Linked DNA regions of Homo sapiens. The protein of the gene in region 3 purifies or fractionates together with the protein of the main gene of each other region. This does not show direct contact. Each region holds a gene or a part of one and is shown on either strand. Other genes may lie near its edges.

Evidence for each region.
Region 1: the proteins of LTK (region 3) and NSUN2 purify together in Homo sapiens (affinity purification with mass spectrometry; one large-scale study listed by BioGRID and IntAct). This does not show direct contact.
Region 2: the proteins of LTK (region 3) and DSG2 purify together in Homo sapiens (affinity purification with mass spectrometry; one large-scale study listed by BioGRID and IntAct). This does not show direct contact.

Annotation. Positions count from the first base shown.
Region 1 is NC_000005.10:6,602,011-6,605,661, reverse strand, and holds part of NSUN2 (RNA cytosine C(5)-methyltransferase NSUN2), read left to right. Parts: intron 1-253; coding exon 254-389; intron 390-976; coding exon 977-1,057; intron 1,058-1,385; coding exon 1,386-1,524; intron 1,525-3,161; coding exon 3,162-3,201; intron 3,202-3,651. UniProt on the Homo sapiens protein: RNA cytosine C(5)-methyltransferase that methylates cytosine to 5-methylcytosine (m5C) in various RNAs, such as tRNAs, mRNAs and some long non-coding RNAs (lncRNAs).
Region 2 is NC_000018.10:31,546,224-31,549,540, forward strand, and holds the end of DSG2 (desmoglein-2 preproprotein), read left to right. Parts: coding exon 1-520; 3' UTR 521-2,785; downstream 2,786-3,317.
Region 3 is NC_000015.10:41,503,802-41,507,452, forward strand, and holds part of LTK (leukocyte tyrosine kinase receptor isoform 1 precursor), read right to left. Parts: exon of another isoform or gene 3,644-3,651; intron 3,490-3,643; coding exon 3,294-3,489; intron 2,205-3,293; coding exon 2,114-2,204; intron 1,977-2,113; coding exon 1,912-1,976; intron 1,730-1,911; coding exon 1,600-1,729; intron 1,505-1,599; coding exon 1,407-1,504; intron 1,264-1,406; coding exon 1,171-1,263; intron 1,074-1,170; coding exon 972-1,073; intron 840-971; coding exon 705-839; intron 632-704; coding exon 541-631; intron 444-540; coding exon 195-443; 3' UTR 1-194. UniProt on the Homo sapiens protein: Receptor with a tyrosine-protein kinase activity. Following activation by ALKAL1 or ALKAL2 ligands at the cell surface, transduces an extracellular signal into an intracellular response.

The DNA.
Region 1 (3,651 bases), on a different chromosome or scaffold from region 3:
AGCGGCTGAGGGAGAGAAGCTGCACTTGTTAATTTAGGTTTCTGATGGAGTTGTGCCCCAAATAAATGTTACGTGGAGGTTTCAGGTGGAAGTGGATGAAGTTTAGAAGCTGGAGTCCAGAGCAGAGCCCAGTGCCCTTGAACCACACTGCAGTTTTGGGGATTGAATTCTGGAGGAGGAGAATAAGATGTTTAGAAACAGTCTACCAGATTTTGAACTCATTGTGGATAAACAACAATGTTGTTATGTACAGGAAATTTTATGCTTTGGATCCTTCATTCCCAAGGATGAATTTGTTAACTCGGACTACAGAAGGGAAGAAAAGGCAGCTCTACATGGTTTCTAAGGAGTTGCGGAATGTGCTGCTGAATAACAGTGAGAAGATGAAGGTGCCAGCCGCACAGACGCTGAGTGCTGTGTGATGCGGGATGCGTGTGGCTTTTCACAGCGGCTTAGATTTCATTTGGAGCAGACCGTGACATCTGCCCTCCCCACCTGTAGCGCTGGCTGTGGGTCCCTGAGCCTGCCCTTTGATTTCAGAGCTGTTGACTGACACAGGGCTGAATGGTTCCTGCCAGAGTCCTGAATCTGGTGGCCTGTGTCTTTTCTGTGCCCCATTCCCGCAGGGGGGTGAGCCATGGTGTAGTTCTCACAGCTCGCCCTCCTGGGCAGAGAAGGTACTAAAGGTGTAGAGGCTGCGAGTACTGCTGCCCCGACCCTTGGGATTTGTCCTTTGAGGTACTTCCCTTAGAATTTGGCCATTTGGGGGCCCTTCTTTCATTTGCTTTACTGTCCTCCAAACGACGTAATCACAAGTTGTGAGTATCAGTTCGTTCTTAACCGGGGTTTCTCGGTGGGTTTCTGCTTCTCCTCTCCTTTCCCATTCCGTGACGGTTGCTCCATGTGGCCCGGCATCCTTACAGGAGATGGTCCTGTCTTCATCTCTCTGTGTTTCATCTTATTTTTTTACTTACAGGTTATTAACACGGGGATCAAAGTCTGGTGTAGAAATAACAGCGGTGAAGAGTTTGACTGTGCTTTCCGGCTGGCACAGGAGGTAATTTTGGAAGTGGATTTGAACAGCAGTAGCCACAGATGACTGAAGCAGTCGGGAGTAGATGGGCTTGCTGGTCAGCCAGATGGTCTGAGTGGCTCAGGGCTTGGCTGGCACCTACCAGCCACTTGACCCTCACAGGTTATAGAGCTCTCCCAGAGTGCTGGTTTCCCCTCCTAGGGGGGGGTGGGTTCCACACCTGTCCAAGGGGAGGGGCCATAGTGAGGGCTCGACCACCATAGCCGCTAAGAGCATAGCCCCTGAGAGCAGGCTGTTGTCGTTCATGAATGACATCATGGTATCTGTTCTCTCATTCTCTTTATTCACACAGGGAATATATACATTGTATCCATTTATTAACTCAAGAATTATTACTGTATCAATGGAAGATGTTAAGATACTGTTGACCCAGGAAAATCCCTTTTTTAGAAAACTCAGCAGTGAGACCTACAGTCAAGCAAAGGACCTGGGTGAGTAGTTGGAAATGCATAGAGACATAACTTGTATTCCCTTTATAAGGCCAGCAAAAATGCAGGTGGTGTGCGTTGGGGCATATTTATCAATCATAGTTTTCAGTTTATTTATGGCTACATCAATTTCCAGAGGGTTCTGTAGATCCCTGATTGACAGTTCAGAATGCTAAGGGTCAAAGGCATCTTGGGGTTGGTGTACTTCCCCAGGCTCTGGTGGTGCCCTGCTGCTGCCCAGCAGCCTGTGGTGTGTCTGTGTGGCGTGCAGGGCTGGCCTTTGCTCACCTTGCTGGGCCAGAGAGTCCGGGGAGAGGAGGGGTCAGCCTGTGAGCAGCCCTGGCAAGCCTCCCAGCCAGAGCTCTTGACCCACTTGCCTGTCAGCAGGTCGGGGGTGGGTGGAAGCAGGTCTCTGTGCATGAGCAAATTTGTTTTTTTCTTTTTTTGTTTTGAGACAGAGTCTCGCTCTGTCACCCAGGCTGGAGTACAGTGGCACGATCTCGGCTCACTGCAAGCTCCGCCTCCCAGGTTCAGCCATTCTCCTGCCCCAGCCTCCCAAGTAGCTGGGACTACAAGCACCCGCCACCACGCCCAGCTAATTTTTTGTATTTTTAGTAGAGACGGGGTTTCACCGTGTTAGCCAGGATGGTCTCAATCTCCTGACCTTGTGATCTGCCTGTCTCAGCCTCCCAAAGTGCTGGGATTACAGGCGTGGGCCACCGCGCCCAGCCAGTAAATTTGTTTTTTAAGGTACACAGCCTCACGAGACTGGCTAACATGCAGATTTTAATCACCTGTGTTAGAGCAAAATAAGAGTCTTGCCAGCAGTTCTGACTTTTCTGCTAGCCAGCTGGAGTAGATTATTGGTCATATTGCTGCTTTTATATTTCATCAACTTCCACTTCAGATCACTCCAGTGACGTTTTCCCCTAAGCATAAAAATCATTTCTCCAAGCTGTTCTAATTTTCTTTCTGTTGTCTTCATTCTTGTTTATTTTTTTAAATAACTTGCTGTTTAATATTTTTGGCTCAATTTGATCAAAAGTACGTGAATCACTTCTTGCAGTTACGTTTCTTACTTGCGTTTAAAACTTACTCGTGTGGTTCCTTTGGGATATAAAACATGCTCTGTGGAGTCTGTCTCCCACTGCCGTCTCCAGGCAAGAACCACAATTTAAAGTAGAGATTCTTGTAAAGGATAAAGGACCTGTTTATACTGGTTTTCTTTTAATCCTGCACTTAGATGATTGCAGTATTGTTTTAGACAATTTTTATGTATTTCATGCCATTCTGGGAGTTGGTGTTATAGTTTATTTAATTTTGAATTTTGAAGAATTAACCAGCAGTTAATCCCCAGCCTCCTTGCTTCTCAGAGTGGATTGTCAGGTGACATCCCTTGAAGTCCCTGAATGGCTTTTGCCTGGGTCCTCTTCCAGATCGTCCCTACTGCGTCATTTGGACTTGGTTCATGTATCCAGACGGCCTCTTTTCACCATCTAGATCCTTGAAGCCAAGAATGTAGATTATTTGTTGTTTTCTTTCTTCAGAATACTTAACACATCACTAGGTGCAGAAATGTGCTCAGCGCATGCATCCACTACCTGGAAAACCTGGCAAATGTGTGTCTGTTTCTTTTCCAGCAAAGGGAAGCATCGTGCTGAAGTATGAACCAGATTCTGCGTAAGTCAGTACACGCCCTGCCCTTAGACACACACGCCTTGTCATTAGCTACAGTGTTCTCGTTGGTGAGGAAAGTGACTTGGGAAGGTGGGAACCTTCTTCAGGCCTTTTGTGATTGTTCCTCAGAAGTAGCCTTGTGAAAACTTCAGAACCAAAATATTCCTGTAGGTCATCATGAAGATGCTGTTTCATAGAACACTCAGCTCAGGCTAAGTGAATTTTTACTTACAGAGAATAAAATGCATAGTACTTATTTTTTAAGCATTAGAAACCAATGAAAATTTCTGTCTTGTACAGAGTAAGTGTGAAGATTGGACAGTTGAGTGAGGTTCCGTTCTTTTGTCCTCATGGCTGGTTCAGCCATGTGTGTTGCTGACATGTTACTGCATCAGGAGTGCTAGGGCCGGAGCATGGGATTTGCTCACGCTTGCACTCACGGTCCCCACGGGA
Region 2 (3,317 bases), on a different chromosome or scaffold from region 3:
GCCACCAACCACTGTGATCCTGGGTCCTAGCCAGCCACAGAGCCTTATTGTGACAGAGAGGGTGTATGCTCCAGCTTCTACCTTGGTAGATCAGCCTTATGCTAATGAAGGTACAGTTGTGGTCACTGAAAGAGTAATACAGCCTCATGGGGGTGGATCGAATCCTCTGGAAGGCACTCAGCATCTTCAAGATGTACCTTACGTCATGGTGAGGGAAAGAGAGAGCTTCCTTGCCCCCAGCTCAGGTGTGCAGCCTACTCTGGCCATGCCTAATATAGCAGTAGGACAGAATGTGACAGTGACAGAAAGAGTTCTAGCACCTGCTTCCACTCTGCAATCCAGTTACCAGATTCCCACTGAAAATTCTATGACGGCTAGGAACACCACGGTGTCTGGAGCTGGAGTCCCTGGCCCTCTGCCAGATTTTGGTTTAGAGGAATCTGGTCATTCTAATTCTACCATAACCACATCTTCCACCAGAGTTACCAAGCATAGCACTGTACAGCATTCTTACTCCTAAACAGCAGTCAGCCACAAACTGACCCAGAGTTTAATTAGCAGTGACTAATTTCATGTTTCCAATGTACCTGATTTTTCATGAGCCTTACAGACACACAGAGACACATACACATTGATCTTAAAATTTTTCTCAGTCACTGATATGCAAAGGACCACACTGTCTCTGCTTCCAGGAGTATTTTAGAAATGTTCCACAATTTACTGAAGACATAGAGATGATGCTGCTGCTTAGGTGCCTTTTAGCAAGCTATGCAAACAATCCTGATAAAACAAGATACATAGAGAGTCAATCTGGCTTCTGAGAATTTACCAAGTGAACAGAGTACCTAGTTCATCAGCCGTCCAGTAAAGCAACCCAGGAAACTGACTGGGTCTCTTTGCCTACCGTATTAACATTAAACATTGATGTTCTGTATTCTGTACTTTACTGCACCCAGCAGACTTTCAACAACTCATTGATCCAAAGATACATGCACAGTCTGAGCACCAGCTATGGTGCTCATAACTTCTTTAAGACTTGAACCCTTTCAATCTGTGTGATTCATTAAATTGGACCATTGATGATAAGAATACACATTGTATGTTTCTGTGCACATGACAGTGTGTGTGTGTGCACGTACATACTGTATAGTCTTAAAAATAGCATTATACTGGCCAGGGGTGGTGGCTAACGCCTGTAATCCCAGCACTTTGGGAGGCCGAGGCGGGTGGATCAACTGTGGTCAGGAGTTTGAGATCAGCCAGGCCAACCTGGTGAAACCCCGTCTCTACTAAAAATACAAAAATTAGCTGGGCGTGATGGTGGGCGCCTGTAATCCCAGCTACTTGGGAGGCTGAGGCAGGAGAATCACTTGAACCCGGGAGGCGGAGGTTGCAGTGAGCCGAGATCGCACCATTGCACTCCAGTCTGGGCAACAGAGTGAGATTCCGTCTCAAAAAAAAAAAGAAAAGGAAAAAAAAATAGCATTATACCTCTTCCTTGTCTCAACCGCCATGAAAATTCTGAACACTCCAAATTCAGTTGAATAATCCAAAACAAAATTTATAAGTATAAAATAATTTTACTTCTTATAGTAATAGTATACTTTAAAAAGCCTCAGGGTATATTATCTTCTAAACAGCTACAATTCAGTGCAGCTACATTAACCAACTATGTTCTCTAGTTGAGAACAACTAGGCCTATTTCACTGCTGTGTAGCCTCAGTGCCTAACATGGGTGCCAAATAAATATTCGTAGAATTACACTGAATTGTAAAAACCATTCGTTTTTGTTTACAATTGCCAAAAATCTCAAAAGGCCCTGTATTTATGTAATTCTTTGAAATTATTATTTTATTTTGATTTCTCAGTTATTGACTGGCTGGGTGTGACTTAGTACATAAGTACTCAATATTATAAAAACCTCAAATAATTGACTTGATTTTACACAACATCCTTCCCTTTTCTACAAGTTAATTTTTTTACAAATCATTTGGGTTATCTCCTAAATAGGTTATATTTTATTGCTTCTAGAAACAATGTTTCAAAATATATGTGCATTATCAGTAATAATTTGTATAAATATTTCCCACAACAATTTTCATAATTTTCAAAGACTAATTTCTTGACTGAAGATATTTTGCTAGGGAAGTGAAACTTTAAAATTTTGTAGATTTTAAAAAATATTGTTGAATGGTGTCATGCAAAGGATTTATATAGTGTGCTCCCACTAACTGTACAGATCAGGACACATATTTTTAGACATCTAAGTCTGTAGCTTAAATGGAGGTTACTCTTCCATCATCTAGAATTGTTTACTTAGTAATTGTTGTTTCTTTTATTATTATAGACTTACTATCAGTTTTATTTTGCCAAGTATGCAACAGGTATATCACTAGTATATGAAAATGTAAATATCACTTGTGTACTCAAACAAAAGTTGGTCTTAAGCTTCCACCTTGAGCAGCCTTGGAAACCTAACCTGCCTCTTTTAGCATAATCACATTTTCTAAATGATTTTCTTTGTTCCTGAAAAAGTGATTTGTATTAGTTTTACATTTGTTTTTTGGAAGATTATATTTGTATATGTATCATCATAAAATATTTAAATAAAAAGTATCTTTAGAGTGACCCTTTCCCCATAGATTTTTATTTCTCTATTATATTTTACAAGGAATATAACTCAGTTTGTTAGGGAGAGTGCCTTAAAGGCAGGTGTTTCTTGGACTTTGTTATTTAATTAGATCTGCTTGCAATAAAAAAAGTTGTCGGTTATCTAAAATTCAAATTTATCGGGGTACTTGGCATTTTCATTGTCCAACTCTGGCAACCTTGTTCCTAAGGAAGTGAAGGTTGCTCTCTGCCCAGAGTAACACTGGAGAAATCTGTTGGGTCTGGCAGAAGAAGGCTAGTATATCTAACCCAAAGAGATGAAATCATTCTACCAATGTTTGAGAGGCTGTTTTAATTGCTTGTTATAGTTTAGAAGGGAAAAGATCAGAGTTGCTGCTATAAGAGAAGAAAAACAAATTTTCTTCTAGGTCCCCAGCTGGGGCTCTGTAACAAAACACAGATTAACAAGAGAAAAACAAACATTAGTCTGTTAACATGTGTATCTCATGCATGCTTTGGAGTAACTGGAATGAGCAGCTCAAAGGGGTGGTTAGAACTTGGGTGTAAAATGTTAAAAGAAGAGCTTTAAACAAATTAAATCTAACAGTTTACTTAAGCAAAGAAAGGTTCACAAAATTGGGCTGCCCTGGAACTAGAAAAGGTTCGGAGAACTCTATTCTACAATAATGAGCAGGCCGTATTCATAG
Region 3 (3,651 bases):
CTTCCCTGGGAGGCCTGGGCTGGTTTCCAGCATGGCAAGTGCAGCGCTGCCAGGCCAGCCCCGAGACAGGCCCAGACACACAGCACAGACTGCAGGGAACAGAGGCCGCTGGCATAACAGGCCACCCAGGAGCCTGAGGAGTATAGGGAGGGACCCTCAGTGCCTCAGTCCTTACCCTCAGGGCCCCTTGGGGCTCAGGAGCGATAAGTGGGATTCCAAAGGTTCTGAGGTTGGAGGCCCCTGGATTTGAGGGGCTTGAGGCCAGAGGACAGCCAGGGGCCAAGAGGGCTACCTCCCCAGCTTTTCAACTTCTCTGGACTCAGTTCCTGGGGCTGTGGGGGTCTTAGGCACTCCAAAGATCTGTTCCCCAGCCCAGAAGTCCCTTCCTCCTCTGGGGTGGGCCCCAGCTCCATTGGCAGGAGTGAATTCAGCACATCCGGGTCCTGTAATGGAAGAGTCAGGGAGCAGGGGGGCATAGAGTTTTCTGGCCCTCCCTCCTGACCCACAAGACCAGGATGTTAGATTAGGTCGGGGGCACACCTGAGTGCAGTACTGCAGACGCTCCAAGATGCTGGCAAAGCTAGGGCGGAGCTCAGGCTCGTGCTGCCAACACTGGGTCATGATGCGGTACCTGGGGAGAGGCAGGAGTTCATGCCCACCCATGGTTGTGAAGGACCTCCCTTCCCGGGCAGCACTCAACTCACACAGGCCCTGGGCAGCCCCTAGGAGGGTCCATCCGGCCTCCTCCAACGACGAAGTCCAGCACCTCCTGGTTGGTGCGCCCAGGATAGGGCATGTAGCCCAGTGAGAAGATCTCCCAGAGCAGCACCCCAAAAGACCTGCATCACAAGTGGGGGAACCAAGTGAGGCCCGTCAGGTGTAGCCTCCCCTCACATGAGGTGGCTGGAAAGGACAGGATTAGCCTCAGGGGAGGGGAACAGTGGGGAAGGGGAGGGGAAGGGTGTTATCACCAGGAATCTGTCTTGGATGTGAAGATGCCCTCCAGGAAGGCCTCTGGGGGCATCCACTTGACTGGGAGCAAGGCCCGGTCCCCCCTGCGGTAATAACTGGCCCTACAGGAGGGAGGAGGTGAATGATGAGTTGTTCACCACCAAGGTGCGGGGAAAACCCCCTTGGAGCAAGAGCCTTCCCACCTCCCAAGTCCCGCACCGGTAGATATCTCGTGCCATCCCAAAGTCCCCAATCTTGGCCACTCGGCTGGGTCCAGCGCAGCTCAGCAGGCAGTTCCGGGCGGCAATATCCCTACAGAGTAGGCAAAAAAAATCACTGCCAGAATCTAGAAGTTCTTGCTCTTCCTGATCTATTTCCTTAAAAGCTGTGTGGAAGGGCTGTTCCTTGGGGAGGGAGTTGGGATGGGGGTCCCCTGAGCCAGGACTGCTCCTAACCTGTGGATGAAGTGATTTTCCTCCAGGTAGTGGCAGCCCTGGGCTATGTCCTGGGCCAGTTGCAGCAGGTCCCGCATGACCAGAGGTGATGGCTGGCCCTGGGTCAGGCAGAGGGGGCATCAGTCCATGTAGGTCTCAGACACATGGACAGGGTCTTTAGAGGGGCCTGGGGGGGCTAAGACAAGGGTCTCACCAGGTGTGGCCGACTGTGCCTCAGGAAACTCTTCATGTCCCCTCCAGACATCAGTTCCAGCAGAATGAGGCGAGGGGTGGCCCTGAGGCTGAGCCCCACACACCGCACAATGTTCTGATGGCGAAACTTGCTGAGTGGGGTGGGGGACATATCCCGTTACCAGGAGGGAGACGGAAACCATGTTTTAGGCTCCACAAAGCTGGAGAGGCCCTCTGTGTCCCCTGACTTGCTACCTCAGCCTCAGGGTGAAGAGAAACTGTTCCCGGGCATTCCCCTCCCGCCTTCCAGCCCTGCCCCTGGTCCCAGGTGCACCTGATGATGAGGGCCTCCATGAGGAAATCCAGCTCATCCTGAGGCGAGCAGAGTTCTGGCAGGGTCTGGGGAGGAAAAGGGCACAGTTTCTGAGCTGCCCTGCACGCTTCAGGAGAGGGGGTTAACCCTAGCTCTAGTCATTGTCCTTCCCTTCAGGGTGTTCCGCTCTCCTACCCCCAGCCAGAAGTCCCACTCCTCTCACCTTGATAGCTACCTGCAGGGGACTGGAGTCCCCAGGAAGGCCAATTACCAGTCCCTCATACACCTCCCCAAAGGCACCATGGCCCAGGGCTCTGCAGGAAGACACGTTGGAAGGGAGTGGGCAGGCGGCCTGGAGAAGAGTCCTAGAGAGTCTAGTACCCCCTTTACCTCCCCTGCCCCTGCCATATGCCCAGCTGACCCTATATAGACTCTCTCCATACCATGGCATGTCCCCAGGTAGAAGCCCTGCAAGGGTGGTGCTCACTGGCATAGAGCCAGGGCAAAAAAGAGGGCAGATGCGGGCCAGAGTCAAGGTGGGAGTGCATGATGAGGACTTCCCTGGTCCCTGCAGACGCCCTGGGCGGGAGGCAATCCCTGGGCTCCAAGAGTCATGATTTTTTTTCTTTTTTAAACGAAGTCTCACTCTGTCATGCAGGCTGGAGTGCAATAGCGCGATCTCGGCTCACTGCAACCTCTGCCTCTCGGGTTCAAGTGATTCTCCTGCCTCAGTCTCCCGAGTAGCTGGGACTACAGGCAAGCGCCACAACGCCCAGCTATTTTTTGTGTTTTTAGTAGACACAGGGTTTCACCATGTTGGCCAGGCTGGTCTCGAACCCCTGACCTCAGGTGATCCACCTGCCTTGGCCTCCCAAAGTGCTGAGATTACAGGCGCCAGATCATATTTTTTTTTTATTGAGACAGAGTCTCACTCTGTCGCCCTGGCTGGAGTGCAATGGCGCAATCTCGGCTCACCACAACCTCCGCCTCCCAGGTTCAAGTGATTCTTCTGCCTCAGCCTCCCACGTAGCTGGGATTACAGGCATGCGCCACCATGCCCAGCTAATTTTGTATTTTTAGTAGAGATGGGGTTTCTCCATGTTGGTCAGGCTGGTCTCGAACTCCCGACCTCAGGTGACCTGCCTGCCTCGACCTCCCAAAGTTCTGGGATTACAGGTGTGAGCCACCACGCCCAGCTGAGAGATCATATTCTAAGAACTGGGACGGAGAGGTGACATTGAGCAAGTTACTTCCCCTTCTGGAGCTTCTCAGGGCCTCCCTCTCCCTTACACAAGGGATGTGGGCCAGATTTTTTCTGGGACTTATAATTCACTACAGCAGGGAGAGAATCAGAGGTGGGGATTCAGAGTGCATAGGTTCTCAGAAGGAGGCAGAAGACTTACCTGAGCAGAGTAACATTGGCTGGGGAAACCTCGGTGACACCTGGTGGCAGAGGCCAGGACTGGGCCGGGCCAAGCCCCACCTGGCAATAATAGGGATTGGGGGCTGTCCTGATGGCAGAGGTTCGAAGCTTGCTCAGCTCAAGCTCAGGGCTCGGCAGCCTCATCTCCTGCAGGCCCTGCCACTTCTTCTGCTTCACTGGGGGTGGGAAGAATAACGGCACACCCTCCACCTGCCCATCAACTCTCCCTCCCCCACCTGCCCAGGACACCCCTCCAGATGCTCATTAAGGTAAACGTTTTCCCCAGGCCTCCCCAGCTCCTTCCTATCTTAGAATCCCAGAGGAGTCTACCACGGCTC